2 separate regions of the Homo sapiens genome follow, and region 2 is linked to region 1. The links come from fine-mapping of genetic effects on gene expression. Tissue or cell type: nucleus accumbens. Region 1 holds a variant in brackets; the other region holds the start of a gene. All regions are shown on one strand. Distances are between the middles of the regions.

The links. PIP is the estimated chance that this variant, and not a neighbour inherited with it, causes the effect.
Region 2: it holds the start of FEZ2, and the variant in region 1 is fine-mapped to the expression of FEZ2 in nucleus accumbens (GTEx, PIP 0.93). The same link has a PIP of 0.9 or more in sun-exposed skin.

What each region holds. Positions count from the first base shown.
Region 1 is chr2:36,550,039-36,552,806 of GRCh38, forward strand. It overlaps CRIM1 (cysteine rich transmembrane BMP regulator 1), which reads left to right. Exons shown (of 17, transcript NM_016441.3): 17 at 1-1,097. FEZ2 (fasciculation and elongation protein zeta 2) reads right to left here. Exons shown (of 8, transcript NM_005102.3): 8 at 2,220-2,768. Among named protein-coding and RNA genes, the nearest start is that of FEZ2, 47 kb to the right of the region's middle. The variant A/C (reference allele first, on the strand shown) is at 1,706.
Region 2 is chr2:36,596,703-36,599,470 of GRCh38, forward strand. FEZ2 (fasciculation and elongation protein zeta 2) reads right to left here and starts at 1,466. Exons shown (of 8, transcript NM_005102.3): 1 at 1,175-1,466. The coding sequence starts at 1,440. RefSeq lists enhancers at 607-1,534, 1,535-2,461 and silencers at 915-1,274, 1,315-1,534.

The sequences.
Region 1 (2,768 bases):
GTATGTGTGTGTGTGTGTGTGTGTGTGTGCGCGCGCACGCACGCCTTGAGCAGTCAGCATTGCACCTGCTATGGAGAAGGGTATTCCTTTATTAAAATCTTCCTCATTTGGATTTGCTTTCAGTTGGTTTTCAATTTGCTCACTGGCCAGAGACATTGATGGCAGTTCTTATCTGCATCACTAATCAGCTCCTGGATTTTTTTTTTTTTTTTTTCAAACAATGGTTTGAAACAACTACTGGAATATTGTCCACAATAAGCTGGAAGTTTGTTGTAGTATGCCTCAAATATAACTGACTGTATACTATAGTGGTAACTTTTCAAACAGCCCTTAGCACTTTTATACTAATTAACCCATTTGTGCATTGAGTTTTCTTTTAAAAATGCTTGTTGTGAAAGACACAGATACCCAGTATGCTTAACGTGAAAAGAAAATGTGTTCTGTTTTGTAAAGGAACTTTCAAGTATTGTTGTAAATACTTGGACAGAGGTTGCTGAACTTTAAAAAAAATTAATTTATTATTATAATGACCTAATTTATTAATCTGAAGATTAACCATTTTTTTGTCTTAGAATATCAAAAAGAAAAAGAAAAAGGTGTTCTAGCTGTTTGCATCAAAGGAAAAAAAGATTTATTATCAAGGGGCAATATTTTTATCTTTTCCAAAATAAATTTGTTAATGATACATTACAAAAATAGATTGACATCAGCCTGATTAGTATAAATTTTGTTGGTAATTAATCCATTCCTGGCATAAAAAGTCTTTATCAAAAAAAATTGTAGATGCTTGCTTTTTGTTTTTTCAATCATGGCCATATTATGAAAATACTAACAGGATATAGGACAAGGTGTAAATTTTTTTATTATTATTTTAAAGATATGATTTATCCTGAGTGCTGTATCTATTACTCTTTTACTTTGGTTCCTGTTGTGCTCTTGTAAAAGAAAAATATAATTTCCTGAAGAATAAAATAGATATATGGCACTTGGAGTGCATCATAGTTCTACAGTTTGTTTTTGTTTTCTTCAAAAAAGCTGTAAGAGAATTATCTGCAACTTGATTCTTGGCAGGAAATAAACATTTTGAGTTGAAATCACACAGTGTAACTTGCAAAAAGATTCCATCTCTGAGATCCGAAAGACTTTTAAGGTTATCAGTCCAATGAACCCCTGGTGTAACAAGAAGTCCCGTGCTTTTGTCATTAGGCGGGTCTTTCCCAAGGTATCCTTGCAAAAAGAAAAGTGTCTCCCAGAGTACAGAGAATAGCGATGCTGTTTTTAGGGAGACAAGAAACCTACCTGCTGTCAGAAACGTGCTCATAGCTGGTATCAAAATTAACTTGCTACGCACAGGAGGACTGTGGTGGGAAATCCTACAGTGGTTCGATGCTGAAGAAGAAAGACTTTACCGAGCACGATCAGGGGAAGCCTAACTGCAAAGAGACTTTTTGAGCTGACAGGAAAAAATAAATAGGTATATTTTCATACATTTTAGAAGCATCAATTTAAGAATGAGCTATAAACAGACCAATGTTGAATCTCCTTTAAAAAAATATATCCCCCTAAGGACTTTCTACTATATCATATACCCTTTAAAGCTACATTTCTTCAGTACAAGGCGTCATTTTTACAAATTCAAATTAATTTAAATTATTAATATTACTGTGTAAGTACATGTATCTGGGGAAAGGGCCAGTAAGTTCCA[A/C]ATAAGAACATTAATAAAACAAGGAAACCATCTCGAGTTTCTCATACCCCTAGAGATGATGGCTGAAATGCCAAGCAGGCATTAAACTTCAAACCGCGCCCCTGCCTTTGCAGTCATGGTGTCTCAGTTGCTGAGTGGAGTGAGGAATATGTTAGCCCTGTTTGTTTTGCTCACAGGTGTTTAAGTGGAATTGTGAAAGCCGCCTGTAGCAGGTCCTATATAGACTCTTAATTCATTCATGTCGTCTATGGGAGGGGTCTGCATGGCTGTTTTTGAAATGTCTCACAGCCCCAGAAAAAGAGCAGGACTTACTTCTGTCATTCCACAGCAGCTCAGCATACTCTAATAAACGTCCTCCTCTTCCCCTTCGTAGCATTCTGGGACTAATCAGGGTTTCATCTGCTCACATATTGTAGCGATGGGTTCTGTGTGGAATTAAGGGAAAGAATCTAGCACTGTAAGGAAAAAAAAAATACAACACAAAACTCCCAAATATAAGGCTCTCAAACATGTATTTTTACTTCTTAAAAAATTTATTAAATGCCATTGATTTGACTGGAACCAGCAAAAGTGCTCATGATATTGATGAATCCATAAGTAGCTGTATCTAGAATTCATACTTAAGAAAAACACACAGGCATGAATAAAATAGGACACAGTAATGAGAATGGGCAGTTCTGCAGTGTACACTTTCTCAAGCACCTCAGAGGACACACACTTAAAGTACAATTCTTCACAGACACATGAAGCAGAACATTTGAAAATCAAAACTTAAATACAAGATTCTAAAAGTGAATGGCAATTTAATGGTTAAAATTTGACCAGTGGTGAAACAAGCAGCAAGCTACAAAATCCATCACCACCAACAGTTTCAATGTTAGCACTAAGTATTAAACCAAAGTAATGCATATTCTGGTTTTGCTTCTTCAAGAACAGCCCGTTTATTCTGTTTCAATCTCTCTGAACAATACTGGTAGGTAATAGTTACACTGACAATTCTCACAAAAAAACAGTGTTGGTTCTTGCCATCACTGAATTTATAGTATAAATCTCCCAAGGCTTT
Region 2 (2,768 bases), 47 kb after region 1:
AGCCATCCTCCCACCACAGCCTCTCAAAGTGCTGGGATCACAGGTGTGAGCCACCGCGCCCAATCTTATTCCACTCATTTTACCTTCAGCCTCTCCGGAGGCTCCTCTCCCCCTATATACACAACATGCTCAAGTCCCTTTACTCTCACCATTCCTATTTACCATCTTTTGGGGGTAAAACCATGGTACCTAATTACAACTCTTACTTAACCAAATTATAATTGCGGCTCAGGTGGTTTAAAAAGTGCCCTCAGGAACTCTGCGCCTCACCTCTCCCAGCTGTGATAAAACCCCGTGAACCTCCTATCATTGCTCTTAGGTGATTCTGTAATTATTAATATTACTTGTGTATGCCTTGGTCTCCCCACCAGACCATGCGATCGTTACCATCAGTAAGCAGGGCCCTTCGTTTTCGTCTCTGTGGCGGCTCGCACTCTACCAGGGCTCCCGGGTGGGTCCCACAGATTCCTGTGCCCTAAATGCTGCCTCGCACGTTGGTACTTATGCACAGGCAATATACTCCACCTAGAACGTTAGACTTTTTTCCACCTGCCAGGCACACTCCCACTCATCAGTCAGATCTCGTTTGCACATTTCTTTATAAAGTCGTTCCTTACTCTCCCCAAGACACACGCTTTTAAGTCTCTCACATTTGGTACATATAACCATTGCAGCGCTAATTACATCCATACATGTATTTGTTTACAAATCTATCTCCCATCCTACGTTGTGTCCTAAGTGGGAGGGACAGTGCCCAGTCGTTTTGGTGTTCCCTGTGCGAAGCAGCGCCTGGCACTCAGCAGGTGCTTAATAAATGCGACTTGAGTGAATGAATGGCGACACACGTGCCCCAGGAGGTGCCCCAGGAGGTGCCGTCTCTAACTATGGGCTCTGCATGGGCGATTCCCTTCTAATACAAACGAGGGTTTGGTTTGCAGGAAGGAGGGCGGGAGGTACCGAGGCGGAGGTTTTCAGGGCTCGTGGCGGCGGGGGGCAGGGGATTTAAATTGCTGGGCGAGCCGAGGCCGACGGCCGGAGGAAGGAGGCGAGAGGGCGGGGACTCCCGCGTCCGGGCGGAAGGAGGGCGCAGGGAGGAGCTGCGGCCGTAGGGCTGCCGGTCGGGCGAGGGGTAGGGGAGGCTCCCGCCCACTCCCGGCCGGGGCCCCGCACTCACTCGTCCCCCTGCAGGAGGCTGCGCTCCGTGATGGGCCGCACGGCCGTCCTCGGGGGCTCGGCGCCCGGATCCGAGGGGCGGAAGCACAGGCTCAGCTTCTCCTCCAAGCTGCAGGCCGGGGCCGGGAAACCGTCGGCGCCCCCACCCGCCTCGGCCCCCGCCTCCGCCCCAGGCTCGGGGCTCGCGTTACAGTTCTCCTGGTCCAGGAGGCTCCGGGCCGGCTCCTGGAACTCATAGAAATCCTGCCAGTCCCCGTCCGCCGCCATCGCCGCCCGGAGCAGTCGCGCGCCCCGCCCAGGCCGGCCCAGCCCGCCCAGCCCGGCCCCGCCCCGGCCCGAAGCCCCGCCCCCGCCCGCTACCGTGCTGACAGATCCCAGGCTGTCCCAACCCTGGGTCTCCGGTGGCCTGAGTCTTCCTGGAGTTGAACGCGGTGCTACTAGAAAGCCAAGACCTTAACTGCCTTGAGTCACTTCCTATATTCTCTATCATTTAGGAATAACTTCCCTGTTAGCTTCCCTTATTAGCAACTTGGCCTAAATGTGGCTAAAATAAAGGACTTCTTTAAACTTACGACCTAATATCAGATTACGCCCCGAAAGTCGTTTTCCCCAAGGTAACCTGCTCCTTTCCTAACTTGCCAACCAGAATAACAGCCAGAGTCAATGGGAAATGTTTAGGTGGTACCGAAGTTCATTCCTCAAATATTTTACCTCTCACGTGCAAAGCACTGGCTAGATCCTGCAGAACATACAAAGATAATTATGCCAGTTAACATTTGCAAAGCACTTAGAGCAATGCCTAATAGTAGATACCCTATGTGTATGTTATAACTAATACATGGGTGCCCCATACACAGGGCTTACAATGTCGGAGTGATAAGAGTAACAAGAAATTGTTTAGACCTCATAAAAACTAAGTGTGATTGGGCGGTTCAGTTTTGCAAGATGAAAAGAGTTATGGAGATGGATGGTGGTGATGGTTCCACGACAGTGTTAATGTGCTGAATGCCACTGATCTATACACTTACAGATGGTTAAGATAGTAATTTTATGTTTATTTTACTACAATACAAAAAAATTGGAGTAGGCCAGGCGAGGTGGCTCACATCTATAATCCCAGCACTTTGGCAGGCCCAGGTGGACGGATCGCTTGAGGTCAGGAGTTCAAGACCAACCTGGCCAACATGGTAAAACCCCGTCTCTACTAAAAATACAAAATCTAGCTGTCAGGCCTCTGAGCCCAAGCCAAGCCATCGCATCCCGTGACTTGCACATATACACCCAGATGGCCTGAAGTAACTGAAGATCCACAAAAGAAGTAAAAATAGCCTTAAGGATGACATTCCACCATTGTGATTTGTTCCTGCCCCACCCTAACTGATCAATGTACTTTGTAATCTCCCCCACCCTTAAGAAGTTTCTTTGTAATTCTCCCCACCCTTGAGAATGTACTTTGTGAGATCCACCCCTGCCCGCAAAACATTGCTCTTAACTTCACCGCCTGACCCAAAACCTGTAAGAACTAATGATAATCCATCTCCCTTCGCTGACTCTCTTTTCGGACTCAGCCCGCCTGCATCCAGGTGAAATAAACA